2 separate regions of the Homo sapiens genome follow, and region 2 is linked to region 1. A link means that fine-mapping ties the variant in region 1 to the expression of a gene that starts in the linked region. Tissue or cell type: subcutaneous fat. Region 1 holds a variant in brackets; the other region holds the start of a gene. All regions are shown on one strand. Distances are from middle to middle. Region 1 has its middle 58 kb from the start of CDH6. Region 2 holds the start of CDH6 (cadherin 6).

What was found.
Region 2: CDH6 starts here. The variant in region 1 is fine-mapped to the expression of CDH6 in subcutaneous fat (TwinsUK, PIP 0.95).

Annotation. Positions count from the first base shown.
Region 1 is chr5:31,127,112-31,143,892 of GRCh38, reverse strand. No RefSeq gene overlaps it. Among named protein-coding and RNA genes, the nearest start is that of CDH6, 58 kb to the left of the region's middle. The variant AG/G (reference allele first, on the strand shown) is at 6,855.
Region 2 is chr5:31,185,579-31,202,359 of GRCh38, reverse strand. CDH6 (cadherin 6) reads right to left here and starts at 8,674. Exons shown (of 12, transcript NM_004932.4): 1 at 8,474-8,674. LOC105374709 (a long non-coding RNA gene) reads left to right here. Exons shown (of 5, transcript XR_007058714.1): 5 at 602-685.

The sequences.
Region 1 (16,781 bases):
GAGTGAATCTGGTCCCCAGTGAATATTGCCATCACTGGAACCCGAGGTCCTATTAACAATCCACAAAATAGAAATCACAGGTAAGGCTGCTACATAGTAGAGTGACTCTTTCCTGTACATTATAGTGCCATTTTGCAATGCATTTTTCTTTCTCAGTCATTCTCTCTTGAATTGCATTTGGCTTCTGCCTGACCTATTAGTAACTCCAAGATAGGATACATTACTCGCTAACTTTTGGGAAAGAAAAAACTTTGCGATTAACACAGAGACCATCCATTTATATTAAATAATATGCATAATGAAGTAGGCTTGTATTTATAATTCCTTGTTTCTAGATATCTTCCATTCTTTCTGGGTTGGATGGTGGCAATTTGCCACTATTTTCTTCAGAGGAGAGGGAGCATATGGTTAGTTCCCTAGATTTGAAAATCCAGACCATCTATATTCACTAATGAAATGATTTTGAAATATGGAAATTATTTCTTTCTCTCTAGAGACCAAAACTGTGATCCCCATCTCCAGTTTCATCACCCTCCAGGGTAGCTCCAATCATCCCAGAAAGTGGCATGAAAATTTGAAGACAAAATTAATTTTCATTCAGTTTAAATTAAAAACAAAGGCATGCCAAATTGAGCTGTTAAAGAAAGGGTTATCTTGATAACCAATAAATGCCATTTTCAATCTGAAAGTGTTCTTTCTATTCAATCCATGTTGTAAACTAGCTAGGAGCAATGTGAGACATACTCAGGGTGGTGCCTCCAAAAACAGCAGACTAGGGAGAATCTCATTATTCTCCAGAAAGTTCCTTTTTTCAGATTTTCTAATTAAGGCTTGAAATAATTTCAGGACAATGTGAAGGAGGCAAAATTATTGTTTAAGGTTGATCCCTGCTTTTTGTTAGATCTGAATTCCATTTGAACCATAGAGTTTCTCCATGCTGGGATAAAAAACATCTTGTTTCATTTCTTTCCATGTTATGTTTTCTGTCCATCAGCCCTAGAATCCTTACCCAGTATCATCTGCCGGGTGCCTATTAGAAAGTACTCATAAGAAACATCCCTTACCTCATTGCATCACCACCCATCATTACCATGCTTTTAAAGGAGTATCATTACGTCAGTTAAATGGTCTTTCAAGAAAAAGAATGTTTTTTATTAATCATGGCAGCGTGGTCCTCAACATTTTTGCATTATTTCTTCTCTTCTGATCCTATTGCTGAAGTTCAGCATAATTTCTTTTGAGCCCAAAGACATCTTATTTCTTTCTTGCTGTCTATGAGATGTCTGCCTCATCTTAAATGAGATCCCTTCTTTTTCTTCTTTACTTAAAATATCTTTAGGATCATTTCCAGGTAATTTTTACATTTATAGTTCACACAAATCTTATATTTACAGCCCCATTGATATGAAATGAAATTATAAGCACTTACTTTCCTTGGCACATGATTTATTCTCTAGCACTGAGGAAAAAAGACAAGTCTCAGATTTCACAACAGCTGAAAGTTATAGTAATAGCAAACTGTGTTCTGATCAGTGGGGTCTGGATGTTGGTGTGAATCTTGGTTTGCAATTTGGTAAGATCTGAAAAAGTGTAAATAAACAAGGTCACTATCCTGTTGGGCCTCAGCCTACAAGATGCTAATGGAGGCCCTGATGGATAAAGGACTTTTCATTCGTGTAGTACCTAATATTCCTATGATTTTCTGTTTAGAAAATGGGAAAATACATTTCATTATAAATTTGAAACTTTCGAGAGGAGTGAAGAGTGGGATGGGAAAGGAAGAATATTCTTTTTATATTCTGATATTTTTTCTTTTTTTTACCCCAATTTTCAATGATAATAATAATTATTAGTAGTAGCAGCACTATTTTATATAAAGATCCAGATGCAATTGAAGTCTAATTTAGTATGAAAGAGGCATCACAGATATTTCTGTCCCATAACAAGAAAGTTTCATTGCATATGGAATATGTATGGTGATTTGACTCCCTCCATAACCAATTTTGGATCTTTAAAGGCAAAGAATATTGGCAAGAAATGCAAATGTCACATGTGGCCGAGACACATAGCTGAGCAGTCTATGGGGCCTGTCCAGTGAGGAGATGCTACTGGGCAGTGACAGCTCAGCTCCTGGCTGCATGTCCCAGTCTCAGTCCTAGGTCAGGCTATGTGACTAGTTCTCACCAATGGAATATGAAGAGGAGTGACAGCCAAACCAGTGTGATTAAGAAACAGGTGAGCCTTGGCACCCCACAGTGTCTTCCACCACCTACCGGCTGAGTGAAGAGCACTCCCATGGCCTAAGATGGAAGAAGTGACCATGTGGAAGGCTACCCAACCAAGAAGACTCTTACTGATTCTGATGTGAGAAATATGTTTACAGGCCAAGCACAGTGGCTCTCGTCTGTAATCTCAGCACTTTGGGAGGCCAAGGCAGGCGGATCACCTGAGGTCAGGAGTTCAAGACCAGCCTGGCCAACATGGTGAAACCCTGTCTTTTCTAAAAAAAATACAAAAATTAGCCAGGCGTGGTGGCACACGCCTGTAATCCCAGCTACTCGGGAGGCTGAGGCACGAGAATCGCTTGAACCTGGGAGGTGGAGGTTGCAGTGAGCTGAGACTGTGCCACTGCACTCCAGCCTGGGCAACAGAGCGAGACTCTGTCAAAAAAAAAAAAAAAAAAAAAAAAAAAAAAAAAAGAAAGTCTGGTGTAGCAGCTAGCATTTATTAACACTTTCATAAATATAATATGAAAAATATCCTATTTTAGTTTTGGGATACTCAGCACAAACCATGTGCAGCATAGTCAACAGTAGGAAGAATCAAACTGAATACATCCTTACTATGTGCCTCTTTCTAATTTCAACACTTGAAAAATACTCTAAAATGATTCACTTATTTCTAGTTTTTTTGATTATCTTTCTAACTGACAGTATTGCCTGAAAGGCTTTTATGAGCCCTTTGAAAGGCTGAGTTTCAAAGGACAGTTTATTTTAAAAGTTTATTGTATAGTGGGTCATCCAAGTGTGTGCCTATCACTTATGTATAATAATATACAGCACGTGATTCAAATGTATGACATGTAAGGCTTTGCATGTGGCCATATATTAGCATTAATGTTTTGAATATTGTACAGCAAAATGTATTATGAAATTCTTATCATGAGATAATTAAAATCGTTCACATGTCATAAGAACTAGAAATGACAATGCACTGGATATCAACACTTGATAAGGAACAGATTGTACACGCCCCAACATTCTAGCCTTTACCATCCTTTGGCATTGATATTTTTCTTTCTCTTATTACTCTTTCCTTCTTTCATACAATTCCATGCAGACTTGACAATACTTCAAATTCTACAGTGTCTCAATGAAAATGTGACATGATAGTATAAATGAAGATCGTAATTCTCGTTTTACTTACCTTCATTCTAATGTACAATGGTTCTGAAGGCTTTTACTTTAAATACTACATAAGGAAAATTTTACTGTTGATCACAGGTGGAAATATATTTATAACTCAATTGCAATTCACTCATTTCTTTGGGGACACAAAGTCCTCCAGGGAGAGTCAAACATTTGCATAATGCATCCCAATACTCAGTTATGTATTTGTAACTTTGCTTTAACCAAGAGATATGTAAAATCACAAATGACTGGTCAGCTCCCTATAGGATGCAACTGAGAAACCTTAAGAATCCCATTTTCCACTTATTAAAATTTAATGTCTTAATATTAATAGAGGCTATGAGCTAGGTTCTTGTTAAGATTTTCAGATGAGAATCTGAAAATGGGCCAGACTTAGCCAGTACCTAGCCATATTTTGAAATGGGACAATTCTTTCCTTTTTAAAAATCTGTACTCTGCACCCCTTTCTCTCTCAAACTTGACTCTTCCTTCGTAAAAATTATGTTCCTTTTACATCCTTTCTTGGTGGCTAGTGTTTACATTTTGGCCAAGGTCTATTTTCTGTTGTCTCAGAGGAAAACAATTTGATACTTAAGTTCCTGGCTTCCTATTCTACTGTCACTCTCTATTGTCACTTCTTGTCTGAATTAGTGCAATAACCCTCTTACCTGGTCTCCCTAAATCCAACCTCCCTACTTCTTCGTTTGTTCTCCAGACTGTATCCATAACAATGTTCCAGAAATGCAGATCTGTTCATGTTTCTCCCCAGTTAGAACCTTTTAATGTCTTCCCACTGCTTTCAGAATAAAATTTAAAGTCCTTAACAAGGTGGATAGGATTTGGATTTGAGGTCTGGCTTGTTATTTATGGCCATGTGACTTGACCTAGTTAAATCACAGTTTCTCTTCACCATTGATTCTCATTATTTGTGGTAGTTATGCTCTGTACATTTTCCATAAACACTGAATTAGCAAATATCGAATCATTGCTCCTTGGGAAAATACAGGATTAGGTTCCTGTGAGCCTCTGGTTACAACACTTTTGTCAACAGATCAATATATAACCTTGTTTTACAGGTGTTTCTGTTTAAAAACACCTTATTAAGTATATATTGTCGATTCATTAACATTGAACTCGTGGGTAACAGCATTATAACGCATACTTAAATGAAGCTTCTCTAACACACATATTTTCTCCATAAAGTACTTTACAGTTTTCTTACACTCAGAAACACTAGACAGCATTTCAGTACCATGCTTGGTGAAATGGTGAAATCACCAACAAAGCTCAAAACTCCAAAAAGCGTGCCACTTTTAAGTAGACTGTGAAAAGGACACTTGTTTATAGTTTGGGAGCTGAAACAAGAAGGCACAGAATCACCTTGTTCGGCCTCAGTCTGGAATGGAAATGCCCGTTGGGTGACTCAAAATTTTCATTTCTACCAACCCCCATTCCCTGCTGCGTAAGTCTGTGAATGACTGAAAGGATGCAGTAAGTACTGATTTGGGGGTTAAAGTAAATTTTATCCAGTAGACGAATTTTCAAATCTTGATCTGTGGATAGAAGATTAACTGTACATGAAAAGGGATATGTTGCTAGCAGACACTCTTGGTTTCCTACCCTTCATGTCCAGCTTGTGCCTTGTTGGCCAGCTGTTTTCTGTGTAGCTGTATGCTCAGAGAGCCCCAGACCTCTGCTAAACCATAATCAACTACAACATTCATGAGGGCCCCCGTTCCCTTCTCCAGTGAAAAGTTTAGGGAAGGGCGTGTGACCCAGTCTAGCTAATGAGGGGTGGGGTGGAGGGGAGATTATTTCTTGCTGGTTAAAAGATACAGCAGAAGAGATACCCTTCTTCTTTTTTTGTTGTTGAAAGATTTTGTGCCTGTCTAGAACAGCAGACAGCAGGGATGGCCTCTTAAACCACGGTGATAGGCTGAGTAGGACTCAAAAAACATTTGAACAGGACTGAGGTTTTTCAGGACATTGACGAGCAACTGAATTAACCAACCAGGACTTCTTGATATATGCCAGTGTGAGTAGGTTTTCTTGTTAGTTAATTATTTGCATCCTGAAACATCTAGATAGTAGGCTTTATTTTCCATAAGGCCAGTATTAGGAAGAGATGAGAGAAAAAAATAAAAATATACATGTGTATATACACATATATGCCATCTGTTATATGGTTGAAACTTTATAAATGTTACTTTTCCCTATTTTTTTTTTTTTTTGAGACAGAGTCTCGCTCTGTCTCCAGGCTGGAGTGCAATGGCAAAATCTTGGCTCACTGTAACTTCTGCCTCCTGAGTTCAAGCAATTCTCCTGCCTCAGCCTCCTGAGTAGCTGGGATTACAGGTGTGCACCACCACGGCCAGCTAATTCTTGTATTTTTGGTAGAGATGGGGTTTCACCATGTTGGCCAGGCTGGTCTTGAACTTCTGACCTCAAGTGATCCACCTGCCTCGGCCTCCCAAAGTTCTGGGATTGTAGGCATGAGTTACTGTGCCTGGACTGTATTTTTAAATATAGAAAGACTATGCAAGTTAAAGACTAAACTACCAAATATTTGTCCTCACTGTTTCTAATTAACAAGAAAATGAACATGAGCTGACTCAGAACCTTATGGGATATTTTATTTCAATGTTCTTGCTTAAAATCATTATCTCCTTAACTCGTTTTTCCCTCTTGGCTATCTGTAGGTCAACTATTCACTTTTTTCATATATAAAGCTCTGGCTATATGCTTTTAAATTGGAATATCATGATTATTATAAAGTTGTCACAATATTTCATCATGCTGTAGAGTAGAGAAAAACTATATTGCAGGGGCTTTGTGAATATCCTAAATGAAGAACAGCAAATGTTTAGAAATTGAGGTTTTATATATAAGAAATAAATGGAGGAGGTTAATTCTAAATGATTGTTTATTCATTCAAGTAAGTATCTATGAAATCTTTACTATAATGAAAGCATGGGCTGGGTTCCAAAGTGCTCTCCAGGGCCTATATCTGTCTCCAGGGCTTAGAGTGCTTGGCATGGAATAGGTTGTAACTTTTGGGAGACCACAGGATGTTTTTCAAACATCTTTGTACCGTCCATGCTGCCAAGTGGAGAAAATTTTACACAATAAGTCCTCAATAGACTGGGTGTGGTGGCTCACGCCTGTCATCCTAGCACTCTGGGAGGCTGGGGTGGGACGATTGCCTGAGCTCTGGAGTTTGACACCAGCTTGGGTAACATAGTAAAACCCCATCTCTATTAAAATTAAAAGAAAAAAATTAGCTTGGTGTGGTGGCGCGTGCTTGGAGTCCCAGCTACTCTGGAGGCTGAGGCATGAGAATTGCTTGAACCTGAGAGGCAGAAGTTGCAGTGAGCTGAGATCACGCCACTGCACTCCAGCCTGGGTGATGGAGCGAGACTCTGTCTCTTAAAAAAAAAAAAAAAA[AG/G]TCCTCAAAAAATACTTGTCAAATAATGGTCAGTTGTGTAGAACACACACACACACACACGCACACGACTAATATTTGCCAAAAGAATATATAATTGTCTCCTTTATTGAGTTTTTAAATGCTATTGGATGGCTTTGGGTCCTAGTATTTCCTCAAGTTCACACATTTTTCTGTTAATTACATTGCCTGAAACCATCAGAGAAGTGTCGTTTATCCAGCTTTGTAGAATGACCAGTCACTTTTTGACACTGCCATATCTCGTGGTTCGTAGGTGATAGCTCTTGGTGGCTTTCTTTCTGATTTTTCTTTCCTGAGAAGCATGATGAAGCCCCACTATTCAGCAGGGATTTGCAACCCTGCCATCTCATGTGAGTGCACACTGAGACCTTGAGCTACTGCTCTTTAACTTCCTAATAATTTCTTTGAGACATTTCTAGGATTCTGGCAAGTAGTCTAACCTAGAGCTATTGTTTTTTTTTTTTTTCTTACAGATATTGCATTAGAACATCTAGAATAAGACCATATTCTCTCTTTGATAGAAATAGTATTTAATTTCCTTCTACTAAGTCTAATATTTTTACTTACTCTCCTATTGTTTTTCAAAATGTGTTTCAATTAGTGTGACATTGGAATTGTCATATTTTCTGTACAACACACATGATAAAACTGAGAACCTTCTGATGAGACATCCCTCAATTCTAATCAAATTAACATAAAACGCAGATTTAAACTGTTTTGGGGTGCTATGCAAATGTAAATTTTATCGTTATTACTGTTAAGTACTATTTTAACACTACTGCTGAAAACATCACTATAATTTAAAAACTTACTTTTTAAGGAAAAGCAATGGATTTTTAGATTTTAAAATCTTTAGATTTTAATAAGAACAACTTACTTTTTATAGATTTTTAGTAATATTTTATTCATGCTATTTTGAATAAACCTGTTATGATGTTTGCTAACTTTTGCTGCCTCCTGTGGGATCGCTTATGTTTCTAAATGAGATGATGTGTTAGGGGAGGTTAAGTTGCAGTAAGACAAACAAATCTCAAAATTTTGGTGAATTAGCACAAAAGTTTATTTTTTTCCTCAGGTTACATGTTCATTGTGAATCTGCAAAGCGGGGGCACTACTCATTGTTGTCACTCACGGGTAGAAGAAGCCAATGGAGGCTCGATTTGGACATGAACTTCCCAGGGACTAGAGAATGCGGCGCTTAAAACTTCTGCTAAATTATGTGTTTCCTTTGTGCTTCCATTTCTTTGGCCACAGCAAGTCACATGACATGATAGGAAACACAACCCTCCCACAAAGCCAGTGGAGAACTGGAATCTTTGCAAATGGCCCTCAAGCCTGTCATCTATGTGCATGGTAACAGGAGAGGGAATTGGAAAGGTGAGTTAGGGGCTGCTTTCTGAAGTTGTGTTTGCAAAACACACAAACCAGTTTAATATGGTCAGGCTTTGTGTCCCTGCCCAAATCTCATCTTGAATTGTAATCCCCAGATGTTGAGGGAGAGACCTGGTGGGAAGTGACTGAATCATGGGGGCAGTTGCCCCCCTGCTGTTCTCATGATAGTGATGAGTTCTCATGAGATCTGATGGTTTTATAAGGCAGTTTTCCCTGCTCTTGCTAGCTCTTCTCTCTCCTGCTGCCATGTGAAGAAGATCCTTGCCTCCCCTTTGTCCTCCATGATTGTAAGTTTCCTGAGGTCTCCCCATCCATGTGGAACTGTGAGTCAATAAAACCTCTTTCCTTTATAAATTTCCAGTCTTGGGTAGTTCTTTACAGCAGTGTGAAAATGGACTAATACATAGTTTTACCTTTATTTTGTTTCTGTGAGGTGTTTTTCAGTTGAAGGTATTCATGGTAGATAGTAATAGAGAAGCTGTAGCTGTTACAAGCTACCTTTTTTTTTTCCTCCTGCCTGTACTCATCTTTAGGAAGTATATATAATTTTAAACTCTGTGGGCTGAACAATAAGTGAATTATTGCACGAAGGACAATCAATTTAAAAGTTTACTTATATGTGTGAAGTTTAAGACGATTAAATGGTGATTTTTTTAGATATCAATATCTACTGCTTTTATTGTCTGCTATATAGTAATAGAGTAAAATCCTTAACCCGGTTATAACAAGTGAGACACAGCTTCCTCCCACACATGTGCAGTGTTCTCTTGACTACTTTAAAAAACGTGAGTACTTTTTCCCCTTTGAACTGCGTGCACGTTAAAAAAAAAAAAACACAAAAATCATGTCCTTTTAAGTGTATTTAATATCACATGATATATTCATATTTTTCTGTTGCCAATCTACTGACAGATTATAAGAAAAGAAAAGCAAGAGAGAGAAGAAAAGAAAAATGGAAACCATGACACTGTCATGGTGGCAGGTAAAAGTGTGATTTTTTTTTTTTTTGAGACGTAGTCTTGCTGTACCAGGCTGGAGTGCAGTGGCCCCATCTCAGCTCACTGCAACCTCTGCCTCCCGGGTTCAAGCGATTCTCCTCCCTTAGCCTCCCGAGTAACTGCGACTACAGGCGCGTGCCACCATGCCCAGCTAATTTTTGTATTTTTAGTAGAGATGGGGTTTCACCATGTTGGCCAGGCTGGTCTCGATCTCTTGACCTCATGATCCGCACACCTCCACCTCCCAAAGTGCTGGGATTACAAGCGTGAGCCACCGCACCTGCCTGGCCAAGAGCATGATTTTTGAGAAGGGATTGGAATGGCCCTGGGTAGTAGGGAGGTTTTATTGGCCTGAGTACACATCAAAAAGGCTATTTTCAAAATCAGCTTAAAGAAATGTAAGCCAAAATGAACTAATTTTCATTTAGTAGGAATTAAAAAATAAAAGGTGGGTGTATTCTTTTTTGAGCACAAGTTTAGTATTCAAGTGACTGCTATGCCAAGTGGAAAGTAATGCCCTTAATGGAAATATAATGAGTAGTGAGGTCAAGAAATGGATGTACTCTAAATTATTTTCTTAATAAAGAACAGACCTTTATTCTCTAATTTCTTTTAATTTCAACAATAAAGATTTTTAAACAATAGAAAAAGGGTGAGAACCTAGGTTTCTATTTTATGAAATGTTATCAAAAATTCTTAAAAAAGTGTCAAATAGGACTGTCTCATAAATGTGTTTATTTTTCAGGGACTTTGAAGCTAGGTTTCCTTAGCTTTTGAGTTGCTTTCTTTTGTTATTGAATTGCCTTCCCTTGTTTGTTTATTTCCACACTATGAGGTGGGTTCTTAAGGGAGCAGACACCCTCCTGGCTGCATAGCGCTGGACTTGAATATGCTCGGTCCAAGGAAGCTATCATGGGATGGAAAGGCTTTCTGCAGAGATGTCTCTGTTCGCAGCAAAAGAGGAAACAGGAAATGACTCAGGGCAAGTCTTGCTAAACTGGAAAAATCAATTAGACACACTCCTAAATAGAATCAGAAAACATTATAGTCAGAGAAAAAGGAGAAAGTGTATGAGAAAGGTTGCTTTCCATTCCCACCTGGGAACTGAAAGACGTTTAGGGAGGTGCAATACCTCTCCACTGCTACAGGTTTCTTTCCAGTCATGTTAACCTGTATGGGGAATCACGACTGAATAGATATTTTCATTATTTCCATTGATTCTGCTTTTAACATTTTTATTTTAAAAATGTTTTCTAGTTACAAAAGCAGCACAGTAGACTGGAAACAAAAATGAGTGAACTTGACTGAAATATGCACTTCCCACTTAAACATATGGCAAATAAAGCCGTAATAATAGCTCTGACCTCAGAAGACTGTCCTTTACATTACACAGTGCAGATTTGGGCAGTGGTCTAACATCAGGTCTGCAACCAATTGCTACAATTGAGTTGCAAGCTTTACATTTTTTTTTTTTTTTGAGACGGAGTCTCACTCTGTCGCCCAGGCTGGAGTGCAGTGGCGAGATCTTGGCTCATTGCAACCTCCGCCTCCCAGGTTCAAGCAATTCTTCTGCCTCAGCCTCCCAAGTAGCTGGAACTATAGGCGCGTGCCACCATGCCTGGCTAAGTTTTGTATTTTTAGTAGAGACGGGGTTTCACTATGTTGGCCAGGCTGGTCTTGAACTCCTGACCTTGTGATCCTCTCGCCTTGGCCTCCCAAAGTGTTGGAATTACCACATGAGCCACCGCACCTGGCCCTACATTCTTAAGTCATATTATTTAGGCAGGACATTGAAAGCTAAGAAAGCAAATTTATTTCTCAGAAGAAAACTCCCAACAATAACTTCTGTTGGTCTTCATGTTGCTCTAGTACAATTGGTCATCCTATATCTTAAAAAACAAAACAAAACAAATGGAGTTTGAGAGTCTAAAACTCAACATCAACTACACAGCCTCTCATTTGATGAACTCTTAGTTTTTGCTTATTTTTAAGCCTATCTGATAAGGATGTTTAGTACGTTATTGCTAAGCCTCTTTGGACATTTACTTTCATTTATTCTGAGTACCAGAAATTCAAAAGACAGGATGAAATGGCTACTCTCAGGAATGTGTAGAGTCTATAATAAAATCAAAATATAGACTAAATAACAACACAACCAAGAAAAACAGAATGTGAGCTGAAGAGAAAGAAAAAAGAAAACCCCAGCATCTCAAAATTAAGCAGTCATTAGTGTTTATATCAGTTGACTGATGTATATAAGTGAGAGTTTCTTGCCTCATCTACTTTCATCTTGTTCTCGTCTTCTCTTCCCTTTTCCCTTCTTCTCTATCATGATACTTGCTAGAAATTTATGCAGAAAAGAAAATTGATAGACAAAACCTAAACAAATATTAATAATCCTTGCACACTTACTAAGAACCAGGAGACAACCAAACCCCCCCAAAAATATTAATCCTAACAGAAAATAGTATTTTTGGGTACTCTGAGATACAGACATCAAAGGAATGTCCTCATGCAGAACTCTCTCTATGACATTGTTTTTGGGGGAATGTAATTAGCACCTATGTTATAGCTTTCTATTAAGCTCATAGTTTATTTACTGAACTGATATTTTGGAAGTCAGGCCAGCCACTGTACACTTGATGCTTATCCATAAGTTCTAATAACATTTAGACATTTTATCGATTTCTAAGCAAAATTACATTTTTGTTATTCAACATTGTCTTTTTAGAGTATCCTATTTCCACCACAGTCGAGTGTCCAGAGGCATCAACAGAGCAGCGTTGCGTTGCAACATATACATTTCGCATTTCCTTAGTGGCTTATTTGTCATTAAAAGGTTTGAAAAGGTTTCTGTTCCCCAAACTCAGGTTGAGAAATATTATCTGGTATTTACACATGTCTATGTTTACTGTCTAATTTAATTGTGAGTCAGATTGAACACAGAAGAAATGAGACATTTGCATGGTCATGATTATCAAGAGGTCGAAAGTACTATTTTCCTTGGGTGATAACCCAGTGAGTGATGCGGGACTCAACACCGTGGTCGACTGCACACATTTCAGCACCATCGCACTTGGAAACCTTTTTGGTTCAGTGCAGAACTTCTTAAAGATTAAAACAGATTTATGGTATCAAAAGGTATTTTGATGGTCAGCCAAAATTCCACACGGATGGGATTATGCCCCATAAACTTTATCCTCCTTTCCAATGATTTTTAAATATGATTTTTAGAGATGGATTAAATGTAGATTCCTTTGTATTTGTAATACATATTTCAAATTACTACAATAGATTTACTGTGCAGGTCTGCGTGAACTCCAGGGACCTGAAGGCCGGCTTGGTCAAACGACTTGCAGGAGTGTTCTGGTTATTAACATGCTTAATGTTGTAGGCCAGATGAAATAAGGAAGCCAGCAGAAAAGCCCAGCTTTCTTTGGAGACAGTACACTCTATCTTGCTTTAATTTGCTCCTTGGAGTCTGTACACGCTACTGGTGATATAGGTAAGGCAAGGTTACAAAAAGGTCTTTCTACTATTACTCTAAGGCAGAGTTTCTGCATTATAATTAAATTCTGTAAATTTGGGCTTCCTTAAATGCATAAAATCACAAAATACTACATTTTAGTTTATAAAAAAGGTTTACAATCTCTCATTCAAAACTCTTGGGATCTGAAATACTCTTAAAAGCTCAAATTCTCCCTCCCCCAAACTTTAGAAAGATAATATTATGCACATATTGCATATGACGCAATCAATGCTATCAACAAAGTCTAGGTAAAACCCCACTATCAAACACATTAATATTTTTCCAGAAAATGTGAACGTTTGCAGTAAGCAGGATAAATAGAAAACATGCTCTCCTCAGTTCAGATCAGATTTTGTCATCAAGCTTATGAAAAATCTTGAAGTTTTTCAGAGCTTTTTAGATTTTGGAATTTCAAAAAAAGAATTATGGGTCTGTACCAATTTTGCTTTTCTGCTACAACCTGGTAGACTTTGTGAAGCTTTGAAATATTTATCAATAAAAGGATGCATAGTGAGATTATTTTAAAACATTAAATGTTTATAATATCTTTAAAATATATGGAAATATTCTGTTATAATGTGTTGACATAAAGATAGTATAAGTAAGTATTACTGGTAACTAGTTTATACAGATGCAAGCATTTTTGTTTGCTTCACAAGAGAATGAGATGAAATTGCATATTTATTTATTAATTTTGAGATGGAGTTTTGCTCTTGTTGCCCAGGCTGGAGTGCAATGGTGCGATCTCAGCTCACTGCAACCTCTGCCTCCCAGGTTCAAGTGATTCTCCTGCCTCAGCCTTCCAAGTAGCTGGGATTACAGGCATGCACCACCACGCCCAGCTAATTTTGAATTTTTAGTAGAGACGGGGTTTCACCATGTTAGTCAGGCTGGTCTCGAACTCCTGACCTCAGGTGATCCACCTGCCTCGGCCTCCCAAAGTGCTGGGATTACAGGCATGAGCCACCACGCCGGGCCTGAAATTACATATTTAAATTAAAAAAATTTTTCAGGCCAGGCCAGGCTTGGTGGCTCATGCCTGTAATCCCAGCACTTTGGGAGACCCAGGCGGGCAGATCACTTGAGGTCAGGAGTTCGAGACAAGCCTGGCCAACATGGTGAAACCCCATCTCCACTAAAAATACAGAAATTAGCCAGGTATGGTGGCACGTGCCTGTAAACCCAGCTACTCAGGAGGCTGAGGCAGGAGAATCGCTTGAACCTGGGAGGCGGAGCTTGCAGTGAGCCGAGATCGCGCCATTGCACTCTGCACTCCAGCCTGGGTGACAGAGTGAGACTATGTCTCAAAAAAAAAAAAAGTTTCATTAGAATCTTTGAATACTGGTATACTTGAGATACACATAATCATATCTGTCCTCCAGCTCCCTTGAATCTGTTGCCTCTTTCTTACTCCTGGCACTTTCCTTCTGTAGTTACTACTTTTCTTTCTTGGATCATCAAATTTTCCCTCTTGATCATTCAAGTCAACCTATGATCTTTCTCTGGATTATTCTGTATTTAAAAATATCCACAACAGGATTTAAATGTGCAATTTCAGCCGAGTATCTAAATAAGATAGATGCTGCATTCCAGAGTAGGAATATGCAGAATTTCCAAAGGAGCTTTAGAAAAGTTGTTACATGACCCTGGAATTCTACATGCACTTCGAGAAGAAAAGGCTCAGATTAAAAGCAATATTTGGAGAGGATTTCTTTGAACACAAGCAGCCCCCGTGAGATGAGTCTTCTTCCCTTCTCTGCTGTCTCTCATCTCGGGTGTGTGACAAGACCTTCAAGACACGACTTGAGAGCGTGATGATGCCTTAATTCAGGTGTGCGACCCCATATTGAAATACTTAAAAGGCAGAGATGGGATAGTCGAGAAAACCAAAGTGAAGACATATTGAGGCTGCCTAAGGTCTAACTCTATTCCCAGGATCTGTTTGGGCAAAAAAAACTTATGAGTGTTTCTTGGGGATTTGTTGAGCACTGTAAGTGAGAAAAAGCTGTTCTGGAGGTCCTTGTTGATTTGACCTAATAGGATCATCTTTAGAAGATTGAAAAGGCTTCAGCAGAGAAGAAGCTGGAGATGACCTGAGGAGAGATTAGGGACCTGCAAGAATAGAGGACATTCATCTGGCTGGGGAAAGGCAAGCGAGAGGCCACAAGTGGTCAAAGATTGTAGGAAACCTGTGCAGAAAGCTTCACAAGTGACAACTTTAAACATCCACCAAACCAAGAGCAGAAAGCCGGCTTACAAAGTGCCAGTCCTGTAAGCATTTACCCATACTCTTCATTTCTCTTGGTCTCTGCTTCCTCCTTCTTCCTCCTTCCCACCCCAGACTGCATGCAGACTTATCTCACCCAGGGAATTTATATGTTGTTACTTCTATGGGAATTATTGGATTTAAAGTTGGAACTCCATATAGAAATTTTTTATGAAACTATAATTTATATATAAGACTTTCCTTTGAATGAAATTGGAAGCTCTGACTCAAAATGGCCCTGGAGATTGTAATTATAATTATCAAACTGAGATCATGTTTTGTGACTTAAGGTGACTGTAGGAGTTTGCAATTACTAAGAGTAGTTAGAAAAGTCATGGGATTGCCCAAGTTTTCATTCAGGACAAAAAGAAGAAAGTAATCGTTGAGTTGAGTTTAAAAGAAGAGTTGGAGGTAAAAATAAATTTGGTCATGATTACACACCCTGAATCTTTTTTGGCCAACATAATGCTTTCAAATTTTATCTTTTTCTTCTATATTGTAAGCATACCTTGGAGATATTGTGGGTTTGGTTCCAGACCACCACAATAAGGCAAATATTTCAATGAAGCAAGTCACATAAATTTTGTGGTTTCCCACAAAAATATAAAAGTTATGTTTACGCTATGCTGTAGTCTATATTAAGTGCATGATATTATGTCTAAAAGTATACATACCTTAATTAAAAAATATGTTATTGCTAAAAAAATGCTAACAATCATCTGAACTTTCAGTAAGTCATAATCTTCTTGCTGGTGCAGGGTTTGCCTCATTGTTGGTGGTTGCTGAATGGTAAGGTTGGTGATTGCCGAAGACTGAAGTGGCTGTGGAAATTTCTTAAAATAAGACAATAATGAAGTTTGCTACATTGATAGACTTAAAAAATTAAAAAAAATTTTTTTTGAGACGGAATCTAACTCTGTTGCCCAGGCTGGAGTGCAGTGGCGCGATCTTGGCTCACTGCAACCTCTGCCTCCCAGATTCAAGCGATTCTCCTGTCTCAGCCTTCCGAGTAGCTGGGAATACAGGCATGCACCACCACGCCTAGGTAATTTTTGTACTTTTAGTAGAGATGAGGTTTCACCATGTTGTCCAGGCTGGTCTCAAATTCCCGACCTCAGGTGATCTGCCTGCCTTGGCCTCCCAAAGAGCTGGAATTACAGGCATGAGCCGCTGTGCCTGACCTTAATTTTCATATTGTTAGTAGAGATGGAGTTTTACCATGTTGTCCAGGCTGGTCTTGAACTCCTAACCTCAAGTGATCCGCCCACCTCGGTCTCCTGATTGACTCTTTCACAAAAGATTTCTCTCTGTAGCATGTGATGCTGTTTGACAGTATCTTACCCACAGTAGAGCTTATTTCAAACTTGGAGTCAATCCTCTCTAACTCTGCCACTGTTTTAGCAACTAAATTTATGTAATATTCTAAATCTTTGTTATCATTTCAACAATGTTCACAGTATCTTTAACCGGAAGTAGTTTCCATCTCAAGAACTTACTTTCTTAGCTCGTCCATAAGAAGCAACTCCTTATTTGCTCAAGATTTATCATGAGATTGCAGCAATTCAGTCACATCTTTGGGCTCCACTTCAAATTCCAATTATCTTGCTATCTCCACCCCATCTGCAGTTACTTCCTCCATTGGAGTGTTGAACTCCTAAAAGTCATCCATGAGGGCTGAAATAAACTTCTTCCAAACTCCGGCTAATGTTGATATTTTGACTTC
Region 2 (16,781 bases), 58 kb before region 1:
CCCGGCCTGCAAATATTTTAAAGTGGATGCTAGTAGATTAATGAGACTCTCTTTCTTTTTTAATTCTGCAAAAGGAGATTTAAGCTTTGCAGTTAAAAATACGATAAGCTCATTTTAATGACTGAAATCTATACTATACACTAGAAGGCAATTGCTTTTTGAAGTAAAAATGTATATCTCAAAACACAGACCAACATGTTAGTAAATTTTTGTCTACAATTATACAAAGTTCACTTTTAGAAAAAAAAAGACACTGATTTTATAATTTATATGGTTAAGGTGGGCTGTGTTTGTTCCGGCTTATAGAGTTAGATATAAATTTAAAACTTTTCATTTCCCACTGAATTATCCGCTTTGTAATCAAGTGGGCAAATTCACTATTAATGACACATTCTGGCCATGAGCTTGGCAAAGCATATTTTTTTTGAGGATATGTTAATATGGTCAAAGATCATATTAGTATTCCAAATGTTAGTATTAATCTCTGTAAGTTTTAATTAAGAGACCCAAGGATACCTTTTCATTAAATGGCTTTTGTTTAGTTTGTCTTTTTGGTGTTTTAAATATAATTATAATTCCCCTTTACTTTTTGTTCATCCAGATAAGAAGGAAGAGAACCAGGTCAATCATTTCTCAACATGATGTCAGTCATTGTATTAAACCAGTGGTCCCCAGACTTTTGGATTTCATGGAACATTAACAGTTTTATTTTTTAAAGGGGAGAGGATTGACATTGAGTTACTTGCCAAATTTAAATTTTGCCAAGGAAAGAGCCATCATAATCTTTCCCCATATTTCCATGAAAGAATTGACATTTTAACTTCAAAGCAGTGGGAAGGTTACTGTCTGATTTCTTTAAATCAAATAAATTGAGATTTATGAGACACACAATAGGTTGTCATCATTTCTCATATCTAACCACTGACCAATGATTTTTTTTATTTCAAAGATGGATACAACTTTGGGTCTCCTGGGGAATCACTGATTTAGATAAGGTTTACTCAAAACTGCCATCAATCCATTACAAATAAAACAAAACCCCAAACCTTATCATATGTCTCCCTAGCAATGGTCAATATTTTGAGGGAAAATATTAATTCTTCTTTGCAATAGGAAATTTGCAAAATGTAGGAACACACAAAATTCTTAAAGAAGCCTACATCCTTATCTTCACCGCAAGTATCCACATTTGTCCCTTCACAGAATAATTATAAATAATAATATTCTTTATTTAAATTTCCTCTTTAATTTTTAATGCCAGAATTAAATGGTGATGATAAAAAGCAATAACATTCAACAACTAGAAATCAAGCCACAGCAGAGAAAGATAGAGATAAGAGAACAAAATAAATCAAATATATCCATGGATAAGTTATTCATCTCTCTGGTCATCAGTTATCTCACAGTTAAATGAAGAGTATTAGATAAAGTCATCTTTAAGCTCCTTCCTGTGTCTCACATTCTCTGATTATATTTCTAATGATCAAACTTTCCTTGAAGGCTAGATTAACTACATGACTTTTTGAATGGCGGCAATAGAAAGAAGAGAATATAATGAAAATGGCTCATCAATGTCAACCATATAAAACGTGACTGTATTAAGAGGGTTTCTTCCTCCCTCCCTTCCTCCCTCTCTCCCTCACTCCTCTCTCTCCCTCCTTCCTTCTCCCAACTTCCCTCCCTTTCTCCTTTCCTCCCTCCCTCTTTCTTTCCTTGCTTTTGTGGCGATTGTTTTCTGGTGGCATGGTAGTGGTGTGTATATGTGTGTGTGTGTGTGTGTGTGTGTGTGTGTATGTATGTGTGAAATTTTACTTGGTAAATCATTCAGAACAAATACCAAATTGTGATAGTAATGAAGTAACAAAATAAATGTGGTCATAAAAAATTATTTTTACTTACTAGATGAAGAAGGACACAAACACTATCTTACTTAGCTCTACCCAGAGTCCCAAATGCTACATCCATGGTAATGTCAACGAGCTGAGAATGGACTGATGCCCTTAGTGGGTGCTGTGAGGTTGAGGTGTCCCTCCCCTCTCAATGCAATGAACAGGTGTCATTTTAGCTACCTTCCTGAAATACCCCTTTCCTCATAAAGATCCCTCTGAAGGCAGGATAAGATAATTTATTCTCATATAAAAAGTACCATCATTATGTTCATAAAAATGGCCCACACAATGCTTTCTACTACAATTATAAATTCTGACACATGCTTGCAGATGATTTTTCAAAAATGAATAACTTAAAAACATCTTCCTGAGCCTTCACATCTGCCAAGCTCTGGTCAAAATAATCAAATCATTCCCATGCCCTCTGCTGCTCTGTAGTTCTCAGAGAGAGTCACACTTTTACTTCTAAGACATCACAACTGTTTGTTAACAGCACCTTCATTAAGTGCTTGGCTCAAACAGAGATTCCCTGGAAATTCAAACCAAAAAAGGGCTAAGTAAAGAGGATACAAGTATAGTAGGGTCATTTTGATTTACTGTGTAATTATTGCTATGCGAAATGCATGTAAAATACTTAGAAGAGGGTGTGACATAGAAAAGCTCAGTAAAGGTTAGTTTATTATTTATTATCATTATTATTTGGATGTATAAAAGTTCTGAGCCAAGATACTGGTGAGTGCTTTTTATCTTTGAGATATATATATATATATATATATATATATATACACACACACACACACATACACACACACACATACACACACACACAAACGTATATATTATCAACTCTTTTCCTTCTATCCATGATATATATATGTGTGTGTATAGATATATATGCTCTGAGCATATATATACACATATGTGTGTATACATATATATACACATATGTGTGTGTACATATATATACACATATGTGTGTGTACATATATACACATATGTGTGTGTATATATACACATATGTGTGTGTATATATACACATATGTGTGTACATATATACACCATGTAAAGTACATATATACATATATACACCATATATATCATATATATACATCATATATATACACCATATGTATATACACACACATATATTATCAACTCTTTTCCTTCTGTCCACTATATATATGTGTGTGTATAGATATATATGCTCTGAGCATATATATATACACATATGTGTGTGTGTGTATGTGTGTGTATATATATATATTTACCATGTAAAGAGGTGAGGGGTTGCTGTCTTGTAGCTCTGCCTTTCATCATGCTATATCACACACAGGATCCAAATGGGTGACAAGTAGAATACTTGGTCTATATTATTACTGTATACTTTGGATTGCAGGCATCAGAGGAATACATGGTTTTTCTATTTAGCATGCAGGACAATAAAGATAATAGAAGGAAAAGAGTTGATATTCTTCAATGCACTAAGGAAATCTTTTCGTTGATTCTGATGCAATTTCAGACCACTTTGAAAAAGATATTCCTCCAGTTAATTTACCATCCACCCAGGGTTACCTCCCTTAGATGGTGATTTTTTAAAGGTAATTTTCAAGTTTGCATTTTATGGTAGAGATGAGTAGTGTGTATAAATATGTTAATGATGTAATTATGTTTATAAGGTGGCATTTAACAGTAGCACTATTTATAAAGAGGAAAATGCACCCTATGTAAAAATGGCAATTTTGATTCTATTTCTATTCTTATGTTTCCCTCTGCTGTAAAAATTTACGTCCTCATCTCTTTCCATTTCACTCACTTGGACACTTCCCCAAGTTAATTTTTTCTTGCTGTTTTCTCTTCCTATAACTTATTAGGTCTCTTGGATATCTTTTGGCCAGACCTACCAATTTAGGAAATTAGAGAAAGAGAAAACACAGTGTTCTTTCAAGTGCTGAAATATGAAGATAAATCATACCCTGTGGTATGCTAGCTTTATGTGCCTCATCTTCTTCATAAGTCGTTTCTCCCACAAGATAGTACCACATACACTAAGAAAAGCTTGCAAACCATGCTGCCCATTTACATGACAAATCAAATTTAATATTAACACTCTGGCATTAATGAAATTCTACCTCTTATAAATCATAACAAGGTGATCTGATTCCTGGAAGAAACCAGCACCCAATGGTGTTAGTGTAAAGATATTAAACAGATGAAATAATCTTTAATAGTCTCTGCATATGAGTCTACTCCACATTTATGAATGTGTGCTCAGAGCATTCAGCCTTCAATAACTTTTCTTTGTTGGAAGAGTTGAAAGTTTCTTGGAGAGTTCAATTTTGAACAACTAGACTGTTGGCTGCAGATGGCTCCCTCTGACCCAACTATTTAGTAGTAATTTTGAATGCACCACTTCTTTGAAGGGTTGTTTATACTCTCCCCTCTTCCCTTATCTTCCTACTTTGTGGGTGATAGCATCACAAACACTATACACATTTGGTTCAATAGCTAATTAGAGAGAACCTGAAGTTCCTCATAAGATTGTTTTGAAAAAGAGAGGCTTCTGTACGAATAGAAACTTAAAAAAGTAGACCAGTTAATCTTTGGAAAAGGCAAGCTGGAACAAAAATATTACTATTTAGTTTCAGTAAAGTGCTTCAAGCACTCATCTGTCTTCAAAATAAAATAAAAATCCCAAGGGAGAAAACAACATGAAAAAAACGAAGAAGAAAAGAAAATCAGCCCATATGCTGCATTTCTGTATTTCTTCTCTAATATTCTTGGAACATTGTCACAACTGGGTGCTGTGTTTGCGTGTGTGTGTATGCCTTCTTCTTTCTGCAGTTCTCCTATTACCATAATGTTCTTGAGTCTTTGAATTTAGAATCATTATTCAGAAAAATATTTAAACCAGAGAAAGTTTGATTGTCTACATTTTCACTTTTTTTGTGAAGTAAATAAAGTGTGCTCAGTAGACACTGACTAGGTTGAAACACTGTTAAGAATGCAATTCAGACTGAGTCACTGCTTGTTATTTTTATAAGTGAGACCCTAATTCTGACGGACACCAAAGAATAAGCAGCCATGACTAAGCAAGAAGCACAAGGCAACTGGATTCTGCTGGATGTTATCTTATTTGGAACACATTTCAAACTTTAGAACAGATTTTTAAATTGGAAGTTGAAACCTGCAGGCTGTCAGCAGAAGAGGCTGATTCACCCTACAGAAATTATGCTGCTCCAAGTTCCAGGCAGAGTATTTTAAGGAGTAGGTTACCTAAAATGTGTTGTGATACATCAAGGAAAGAAATGAAACAGAAAAAACCTGGAGTAAGGATGACACAGGTATCTAAACAGCTTTTGGATGTTCAACATATATTTATTTGAACGGGGAATTCTTTGAATTAGATGGCCTTAGTTCAGCATAACTTGTGAATGTTCACAGATTTCTGAAACAGTCATTGCACTTTTTTTTCCTGCAAATATTTCTTTTCTTGTTGTTGGTTGGGGGGCGGGGGGCGGCGGCGCTCTTCATGTAGAACTTTTGGAGTTCTAAATATAATGTTATTATTGTTATTGAGTAAATTAGAAGTAAGGAAGTAGAGTCTTGGAAAAGATCAGAAATAAGAAAATCTTATATTGATGATGGTAAATTCTTTATTAATTGGCCATTGCTTTCATTTGGAATCATCCAGCAGTTACCAAAAGTCTAGATATTCAGAAAACCATAAAAATATTTGTAAGTCCCCTAAATTAGAGGAAGTACAGAAATAATAGCAATAATGATTTGACCTGTCACAAATATTAAGATAGTGCTTAGAGAATACTAACTTGTCTACAGAGAAAAAGTTGTTATACTCTTATCTTAGGTAACAAAATCCATTCTGCAGCTGAACTCCAGGGAGAAATGCATGGAGTGACCCACTAGAGGTCCCTTCCAACTAAAAAAAGTTTGAATAGTTCAAAGGATTCAGCCTTAGTGTGTTGGCATTCGTGACTGCAAAGCAACTACCGGGCCAGAAGGGGGGACCACACATTTCAATTCCTTAGGAAGATTGTAGTTTCACTCAGAATATTGGTCACATTTCATTCCTTTTAAAGAAATCTCTGTGGGACATTCACTCAATTAGTCCTAATTTTCAGATTTGGTGCTATAATAATACAGTATCATATAATACCCTGTGACTGTAGCTGTGCTTTCTAGAAAATTTTTAGCTGTTTTCAAGTGTCTCGAGCAGTATTTTGCAAGGTACATTTTTTCTTAAAAAGGAAGAGTGCCTCACTAAGTTTTTCCTTGCAAAGCTGATGGAAGTGGTGGGTGGAAGAGGTAGGGTACACGTTTTTTGATAGTAGGCAACTTGGTAGAAAATGATTATGTTTCCATATATTATCTTTGCAGAGTTAGCAGTACAAAATGTAAGTGCAATAAATTGGTGTAAAAGCCAGATAGTAAAGGGACTAAAAGTCCCTATGGAGATACCAAACTGTCACTTTCTTGTAATGGTAGCAAAAGATAATTGTAGACACAAATACAGTAGAACTGAATTGGCACCATTTTCCTTCAAAATTGGGCTGCTGCCTCTTAGTTTTTCTGAAGAAATTGGTTACTTCCTCTGCTTCAAAAGTATGGCATGAACCATTACATTAGGTGGGAAAAGATCTGTCTTTTATTTTCCTTCAGTACCTTTTTAATTAGAACACATCAAAGAGCAAAAGGGGATGAGATACAACCCTATGTGATTGCATTTTCCAGTCAATTGTTGGGTTTCTTTTAAGTTTCTGAGCTCTGCATTGACAATCTGGCCTCTGGCATAAACTTTACCCTCCTGGTTATGACATAATGAAGACATCTGCTCAAGCATACCCCTTTCTTCACACAACTGGTTTTACGGTTCTCTAAAATGCAAGCATAGAGCCGTGCAAGTACTATTACACACGGGATGATGCTCAAGTCTCAGGTGAAACTGGAAGAGATTTTTTTTCTCTCTCTCAAAGTAAAATCCTAAGGGTTTTCCTTTTCAGGTAAAGCTTTCAGCAAGAAAAGAAAGGAAATAAGCAACCCTTGGCACTATTCATATAAGCATATTTGTTAGTCCTTCTTGGAAGAGTTGTACATTAACTAGGCATATCCCTGGGTTCCTTTTTCCAACACAGGGAGGAGTTTGCAACCCCCTGGATAATTAACCACTCAGAAAGCCCACATTTTGATCTGCACCCCTCCAGAGCAGCCATATATGTACACAACAGCCACTCCTGCAACATTCTTGCAGGGAAAACCTCTTCCTTCTTTCCCACTGTGTGCTTTACGAAGTGAAAGTGAAGATTCGCAGAGACACGGTCTGATACACCTCTATAGTATGACTATCATCATTTAAATTTTTTTTTTTTTTAATGGGAGTAGGAGACAGAAATGTGTGGCTATTCCAGATGATTAAACTTCTTGGTTCTTGAATGTTCTGAGTCATAGTTAACTCAGGTGGCCAGCCCTTTGCACTGACAGAGACCTGCATTTAACTCCCCATAAAATATGGATTTTATTGCAGCAGTGACACTTCTTAGCACCACGCTGACCTCTCCAGCATCTCCCATCTCGAGATCTACGGTAACTCATGACAGAATATCTAACTACGGAAGAAGTAATCTCAGCTCTGCAACTGCTGCAGTCCACAACATTGCAGCGTCCCTTTTTATTAAATTCTGGGATTAACGCATTGGGGGCTCCAATTTTCCAGCATCTGGCACCGAAAACCAAGCGCACTCCAACCACTCTCCAATCAGTCCGGGGAAGGCTTTATCCCCCAGATTTGAGCCTGGCCAGCCGTGGAGGAGCACGAGCGAACTGCGCCTTCCATATGACTTTTCCCTGGACAGTGTGCTCCATTTTCGGAGTCCAGTGTTGGACTTTCCTTGCAACCTAAGCATTTCTGTCCTAGATGAGCCGGCAGGCGTTGCCCGGAACGTGCAAGCTAACAGTTTTCTTTAGCTCCTTCTACCAGCCAAATCGTCTCTTTAGTTTAAGTTTTCCTTACTGGGAGCATTCCAGAGTTTTCAGACTACCTGATTTTCTGCTTTACCCCAAAAGCTAAGAAATGTAACTCAGCCCAAGCAGTCACCACGCAGACCCTTATGATGCGGGCAGGTGGAGATAAATCAAGCCCCAAACGGCTCGGCGGGACCTGCACGCACCAGCGCCCTTTGGTAATTGACCAGCCAACTTTGCAAATGCCAGAGCTCCCCTGGCAGCCTCTGCCGGCGTAGAGAAAGGCAGCGGGTTCTTCTGCGGCGGCCCGCTTCCCGGTGCCCCCACCCAGCCCCACGGCGGATCGGTCTTACCAGGAGGCGGAGGAGCGGTGCCCAGGCTCCCCGGGAAGCGGCGTCGGTCCTGAGCAGCGGCAGCAGCGCCGCCCGCGCAGCCGGACCCGCGCGCCCGCCCCGACCCGGGCTCGCAGGCTGAGAGCATCCCTCCCAACTCCGGCGCGGCACCCACCGGGCGGAGAGGGCTCTCTCTCTGATTGGCTTCTATCAACGCTACAGAATTAAAAAAAAAAAAAGGGAGATGTATGCATAGCCAACGGAGCCCGAACCCACCTCTGCTCGCCTTCCTGCGCCCGCGGAGACCCTGCGACCCGCCCAGGCTGCTCCTGCCTCCGCCGCCGCCGCCGCCGCGGTCGCCGGCTCTGCCGTTCTTGCTGTCGCGGCTGAAACTGCAGCTCTTGGGATGCGAAGGTTACGGGCTCGGGAGAGCTGGCTCTTGTGGGCACACACTGATTTGCAAGTGAATGAAGTGGGAGGGAGCAAAGAGAGGAGGACTTTGTTAAAGAGGCCCAGTGCCTGCCCCCGCCCGCCCCCTCCCCTTGACAGAATGACTCCCAGTGTTTGAAGTCCTGAGCAATTCGCTCCCTGGAACACTCCTTCAGCCCCAGGCTTTCCCTTGCTTTCTTTCTTTCTTTCTTTCTTTCTTTTTTTTGTTGGAGGGGGTTTAAGATATACTCAGAACTTGTATGACTCCGTCTGTTTCCTCTTTTGTACTATCAAAATGCACCTTGTGCTATTATCAGCAATGGTCTGATGTTCTTTTTTTTTCACCGACCAAGCAATTACAATTCCCAGGGACACAGTACCTCGTCACTCTATCAGTTGGCCAGCTTCGTGTGATAGCACGTATAACATGCACACACATAAAACAAGCCGGTCTCCTGAGATGACAATACCGATGGCTTTTCTTTACAACATAAACAGGCGTTCTCCAGATGCAAGCAGACATGGATAGATTCATACATGTCTTTCCTTCTCTCCTCCCAGGAAGACACGCTTTCACGTAGCCCCATGATCTCTGTTACTCTTTTGGAGTGACCCCAGGATGTCGTAGCATGAAGCCATGCTTCCCTGGGCTTGCAGAAACACTGAAAACCCAAACCCTTCAGGCTTGCCAATGACTTATGACTGATGCCATCGTTCTAAATGAATTGATACAAGCATACAAAAGACTTGCAGAAGAGGGGTGTACAATGATATTCAAGGTCTGCTTAACGTTCGAAGATCCTTCTGGAAAGTTGCCGAAGTTGGATAACCTTCAAATTAAACTCTTTAGTACACATAGCTGTTTGAATGGCTAGATTGATAGTTACAAAGAGGTAATATCTAATGTTAAGGTACTAAGCCACAAAAATGTGAAACATGTCAAAGTACCATTAAATGAGAGTAATGATTTTCTACATAGGAGACATAGGCATGATGGAGTCAGCCACTGTTGGATTAGGAAAATTAAATCTAATTACCACAGTGATTGCACCCAGGGTCACTAGCCTCCCAAACCAGCTGTTCGCCTGTGCTGCAAGTTCTCAGGGAGATTTCCATTGCACAGAGCTCTAAGAAATGCCAGGCTGCTTGGCCTCTGAGTAGTTAAACTGGCTGGAGGTTGGTCCTGTTCCCAACTGAGCTCTTACTAGAAAACCTTTTGTTTCTCCAATAGAAGTTCAGGCATTTAAATAAAGCCCAAATCAAAAGTATTCCTTTAGGCAGCCAGTGCTTCAAAGAAGTGTGCATGGAATGGTTTTAGCACAGATGTTCTGCACATGGAAGATGGAAAGATTTGAGTTTCTTTCTGGAAAAGACCTTCCCCAAATGAAGAATTGCTACCAATTTGTGAGAAGAGGCTGAACATTTTCTTTTTATAGAGCTCTTTAAACACGTATGAAGTAAGAATGGGGGAGAAGAAAGCTGCTTTAGATTCATAGTCCATTCGTCAGATTATGAATTTCTTATACATTTAATTGGAAATATTAGCTCTGTGTGTCTGTGTAGTCCTTTACTGTTTACAAAGTACTTTTGTAGACTATTTTATTTAATTCATCCTTCAATAAGTGGTGTCATATTTTCCCAATTAAGACAGAGAAAACAGACTGATGAAGAGACAACAGAAGTTACATAACATGTCCAAGGCAGTGAAACTGGAACACACAAGAAGCAGAAATATTATTGGTAAAAGGGTGTGCAGGTGTGTATGCAGACATAGAGACCCACAGATTATATGTACAGGTATAATTTATTAGCATATGTGGTAGTAGGATAATACATGAATACATAATACGTAAATATGTCAATAAAATAAGTCATATTTTAAGACCACCTTTAGCAGAAAAAATGTGCAAATTGGCTGATTTTTATGGTAGAAGAGGGTTGATAGTGAAGTTGATTTTCTGTCTGTTGAACCAGTTAATATCTCACAAAGGAAACCTCTAATTGTTTGCAATATACTATTCTTCAAACCCCATTAAGCTACATGTCAAAGGTGTTTAGAACAACAACTGTATGAGTGGACAATCCGTTTGCTTCTGAACAGTTCAGGTGGCAGCATGAAATTATATAAAAGACAGCTCTTGTACTAAAGGATTTTATGTGATTTTTGAGGCTTTCTAGTAATATTTGTCACAATAATTATTCATCTTCAAATACAGGATTGATGTAAATATCTAGAATTATTTTACCCTCATTTCAGAGACTAGGAACTGAGAGTTACTGAGGCTAAATGATTACTTGGAGTTGTGTAAGTTCTGTTTCTGGTTTGTTCTCTATCATCACACCAAAACATGTTGGCAAGTAACAGTAGCCCATCAGAGATAGTTAAGCAAATGAAGAGGTATGTGTCATTATTGTATAGGGTTTCTCCTGAAAGTTAAGGGTGGAAATTCTGCAGAGTCTCTGGAAAGGCCCAGGGGCAGGCCCGGAGAAGCCGCCAGCATTCTTCCCCTAGCTCTATCTCCTCCTCAGGACACTTCTGCTTTCCTTTTGTCTCCATTCACACCTGCCTCCTTCATCCTCCAGTCCACAGGGCAGAACAGCACCCCAACAGTTCCAGAGCTTACCTGTCGAAAAGAGGGCTTCTCTTTCAGCCCCCTTTCTAATTTCTTAGAAAATGGCCCTGACGCCCGGCACGGTGGCTCAAGCCTGTAATCTCAGCCCTTTGGGAGGCCAAGGCAGGAGGATCATTTGAGGTCAGGAGTTTGAGACCAGCCTGGCCAACATGGTGAAACCCTGTCTCTACTAAAAATACAAAAAAATGTAGCCGGGTGTGGTGGTGCGCCCCTGTAATCCCAGCTACTTGGGAGGCTGAGGTGGGAGAATTGCTTGAACCCAGGAGGCAGAGGTTGCAGTGGGCCAAGATTGCACCACTGCACTCCAGCCTGGGCCACAGAGTGAGACGCTGTCTCAAAAAAAAAAAAAAAAAAAAAAAAAAAAGAGAGAGAGAAAAGAAAATGACCCTGATTGGTCCGGTACTGTCTTGGACCCATCAGCTGGGGCTAGCACCCCCAGGACCAAATAGAGGGGGGAGCATTTAAGGAGTGTCCTTATATCCTGGGAAGACAATCCAGAAAGTGTCCTGTTCCCCAATTCTCTTGTTTTGTTCAGTAGTTTGGTACAGCTGAAACATCTCATCAGTTTTTAGGCTACTTCATTACTTTAGATGCCTCAGTCAAAATTACTGGTGCTTCTCTCCTTTTACAGCTTGCAAAGTTTCAATTTCTTTTTTTTAAAAAAATCTCCTTTATAAACCATTATTAGGGATATTAATTTTGATGAAGGATTTTCCAACTTCCACTAAATCTCTCTTCAGATGATTAAGAGGCTATCTTATCTTTATAATGGGGATGCATATAAATAAATAATTATGTTTTCTGACTTTCTTTTAGATAATACAAATCTGTATGCAATGATTACCTGATAAAAAATGTTTTCATGATCATTAACAATTATTCTTGATTAGGAGAAAAAATTCACTTTTTAAAACATGAACTTAATTAAGAATATTGGCATCGGCAGCTCTGATCAACCAATCCAAATCATTGATCTAAAACTTAGCCCTACATGTGTTGCTGCTAGGAAAAGCACACATAGTACAATGCTTATGGCTTAATCATCATGGTGTGCACGAGCACAGATTTCAGTGAGGAATGAATGACCATCCCCTACCTCTGCTGCACGCACGCACACACACACACACACACACGCCATACACATACTGTGTTTAAGGGGGAAAAAAGCTTTAACCACTCTGGATATTATTGAATTGAAACAAAGGAGACAAGAAACCTCGATGGAATTCCCTTTTTGTAAGAGCCATAGACATCTCAATACAAAGTAAAATAAATTCACACAAAATTCATGTGATTATCCAGGTTTTCTAATCCTGGGACAGCTTCCAATACTGTATTTAAAGTGGGTTGGATCCCAGGATGCATTAAGACATCTTCATCATTATAGTTGACTCATCACTATAGGTAGATTGCAATATGCCAGAAGATTTCCAAATGTGATAAATGCACAGCAGCAAAATGTTATTGACCTACACAGGGTATTTTAGTACTCTGGGTATTTCATAGTAAGTAGTGTGGACTTCAATTTTGCTGAATTATTTTTACATTTTATTCACTGGTTTGTAGTAAAATATAAATTTGCCTGATCAGATATGTACAACTCAAGCTTGGTAGACTGAGAATCAAGATTGTATTATGGGAATGAAGGGGCATGTCCTTGTTTAGAAGAAACAGTTCCTTAAGAGGAAATGTGTTGCCTCAGTACATTCTTCTAAATAAGTGTATAGACCAGAATAAACAGAACATCTTCTACTTTCCTCCAGAGGGAAAAATAATTCTCTCCCACCAACCCCCTTCCAATTATAGAAGCACTTGATGGGAAGAGTGACAGGTTGGAGTGGGAAAGACAATATAATAGCATGTGCTAAAAAATATTTTGGGATTTTATAGATTGTGAGAACATCAGAATTTTACAGTATATCATGGCTGTCAAAAAGAAGACAAAGATTAAGATGAGAAGATAGAAAGACAACCCTCTGTCTAGGCTTTAGTAGTCTCTTCAGAATAGACAGACCTCACCTACAGCCTTCTGTTCCTCTTTGAGTACCACACTTAAATATACTTTTTTTTTCTTTCTTTTTTTTTTTTTGCTATGTCTCTACTGCATTTCATAGAATACCTATAGTACTTTGGCTTGATGTCATTGTTTACATGTTCTAGAGTGCATATCCATTGAATTATTGATGGCAGAGTCATTGTCTGTTTTGGTCATCATTTTATCTGGGGTGGTAGAAAAAGTGCTTAGTGCTCGCATGTATGAATGAGAAGAGATTCAGATAAACTAGAATGGGTTCTGTAGACAGAAGCTGGAGATGGTTATAGTCTTAAGATTTGCATATGAGCTAAAGGTAGTAAGACTGGAAAAGGAAAGGTTTAAGTTGGTCAAGGATACTTTGCAAATACTTTAGGAACTGTCCTATGGAAGAAAATTAGACTGGGTTTTAATGTGCCATACACTTCGATTAGGATCAGCTAGTGAAGCCGCTGGACGATAATTGCATTTAGTTGATTCTAAGACACCCATATTTTCATATTTTAACAACTCTGAAATTTAGATGTCTCTTACGATTGACATAATAAGAAAACATCATGTCATGGTATACTTGTCAGTGTCTCTTCTTTCTCAGCAACACATTAAGGAATGGTGCTACTTCTTGCCATTGGTATTGTAGCCCTGATGACATGCAGATGGTTGATTTCAGCTCAACATACGAAAGGATTTTCAGGCCATTTGTGTTCAAGATAAAAGGGCCTGACAGCTTTAGGATAGACATGAGCCCCATCCCTGAAGACATTTAATCACAATCTAGACAAGCTCTTGTTGTAAATGAGCTCAAGTATCAGATTTGGAAGTGAATGATCTTTTACATTTTTGTCAAGCTTGAGGTTCGTGAACTTGGATCCAACCTCTTATTTTTTGCAGATAAGAAAACAAGGATCACACCAGTTGAGAGATTTCTCCGAAGTCAGACATCTCATTAGAGCTAGAGAGGCCAGACTAGCATGTCTCCCATGATCCAGTCTGAAGCTACTTTTATTCACTGCTTATCTTTGCTTTCTCTTCAGGCTTAAAGTATAGAAAATGGGTTCCTTAATATTTTGATAAGAACAGTAACTAATATTTACTGCATACATACAATGTGCCAAGTACTTGTTCGCCATGTATATTTTTCACATTTAATCCTCTGACAGCCTATGCGCTAGATACTGTTATCATTCTTGTGCGTAGATAAGGAAACTGAGGAATGGGAGGTAAAGTAATTTGCTTAAGATCACGCAGTTAGTATGCGTCTGAGCTGAGGTTTGAACATACACTTTGAGGTGAATTCCTGTGGTCATAATCATCACGTAGGTGCCTCCAGATTGACAGAACTTTCTGTGGAATCTATGTGAAGTGATGTAAAAATTGAAACCTGCTCTAGTCTGAAATTTCTAATTTTAAGATAAACATATTTTGGGTGTTACGTGACTGTCTTCTTTATTATTTGCCTCAAAATATCTGGATAATGGCTTCAGTTCCTTAATTTATGTTCAAACAAAAGCTGTACTTTTGTTAAATTTTTGGGCTAACACAGGCTTACTAATAATGCAAATAAGTTTTCTTTTTCTCAAATTAAGAAAATTCAGTTTTATCTTCTGCCATGTGTGTACCCTGCCTGCTTCCAATTTTTCCCTATTTGGGGGTACCTTAAAGTTGAGAAAAACTGAATTTAACTTATTTATTGACCTTTATGTCTTACTCATTGTGGGCCCTTGACCATCTGAAAAGATGCATTGACTCTTGCTGGTCTTTTCTGTGGAGAGCTATCTTTGTACACTTCTCAACCCTCAGGGGTAGTCTTTATTCCTCAAAAAGGAATCCTTCACCAAGGATTCAGGCAGAATTCTTGGTCACAGCTGAGGTCTTATCTTTGCCCCTGGGAAACTGTACTTATTATCTCTCTGAGAAGGCAAAAGAAAACTGGAAATAAAGCTTCTTAGTGTCAATTGACAAGAAAATTGTAAAATCTTAGGTAAGTCTATTTTGGGGTATCTTTCCAGACGTCATAATATTCATAATATCCAAAAGCCTTTTTCATATGCTGATGGCTTGCTGAAAAATTGTGTAGTTTTGGCCAAGTCCTCATCTCTTGGCCTTAGTTTCTTCTTCTGTAGAATGAAGGCGTTGAATGGCTTTTTACTCCAGCAGTTCTGAAAGCCTTTTCTTTACCTATTGTTATTTTGCATGTGACCACTAGGGGGACAAAGGAAAGCTCTTTCTGTTGAAACTGTCGCTGCCCATTATGGATTTGGAATAATAGTCTTGAAGAACAACCACAGGGAAAGCTGATTTTTCTTAATGAGGCATCGAATACGTTAAAATGCCTTTTTATTAATTGGTATTACAGTGTGATATGAACTGGTACTTCTTTGTAAGATTTAAGAATTTGAGGAAAGCGATTATTACTGTTTCTATGACTAGTAAAGTCTTTATAAGCGTAATCACATATCTCCATGAATATTACCATGTATGAGATTTCACTGAGCCCATTAAAAATCAGGGATATAAGTCTTTGAAAAATATCACAAACCATGATGTCTTAAGAATGCAGATAAAGACATTTAAAGGATGTTTTGACATTTTTTAGTGGTTATCAAAATTGCTAATAATCAGTTAACCTTTAAAAAAACGAAAGCAATACAAATGAAACATTTCTAATTGCAAAGTGGAGAAGGAACTCAATATTTTGTAAACCAAAAAGGTCCATAATACGTTTTAGTAGCTAATCTTTATTGAACACTTACAGTGTGCCAGGCGATGTATTAAAAGTTTTTGTTCATATTCTTTTGTTTCTTTGGACAGCTCTGTGAAGTAATCATTCTTATCATGCCCGTGAGTAAATGGAGAGTTACAGAGTTTAATGTCCATGGCTTCTCACACTGCTACTGCCAGCGGGTAGCAGAGTGGAGCTTTGAACTCTGGCACCCCACATCAGCGCGGCACATCGCTGCCCAATGTAATAGCCTGTGTTATACAGCACTATCCAGATTATAAAATGCTTCATGTCCATTACTCCTCTGCATGTTCACTCCAGTTCTCTTCAGTAGAGGGTGCATTTACATTGGCCATCATTTTTTCAGGTAGGGCAAGCAAACTCAAGACAGGTTAAGAGTCCTGAACAAGAATCTACTGTTTGAAGTTAGAATTGATTTAGAAACAAGGGTTTTTTTAAATGGATATATAATATTTGTACATATTTATGGGGAACATATGATATTTTGTTACATGCAAAATGTGTAATGAGCAAGTCATATTTGGGGTATCCATCACCTCCAGTATTTGTCATTTCCACGTGTTGGGGGCATTTCAAGTCCTCTCTTCTAGCTGTGTTGAAATATATAACATGTGTGGTTAACCATAGTCATGCTTCTGTGCTATTGAATGTTATTAACTCATTCTTTCTATCTAACTGTATGTTTGTAACCAGTAACTAACCTCTCAACCTTCTTTTCGTCTCCCCTCTTGTCCACACTCTTTGCAT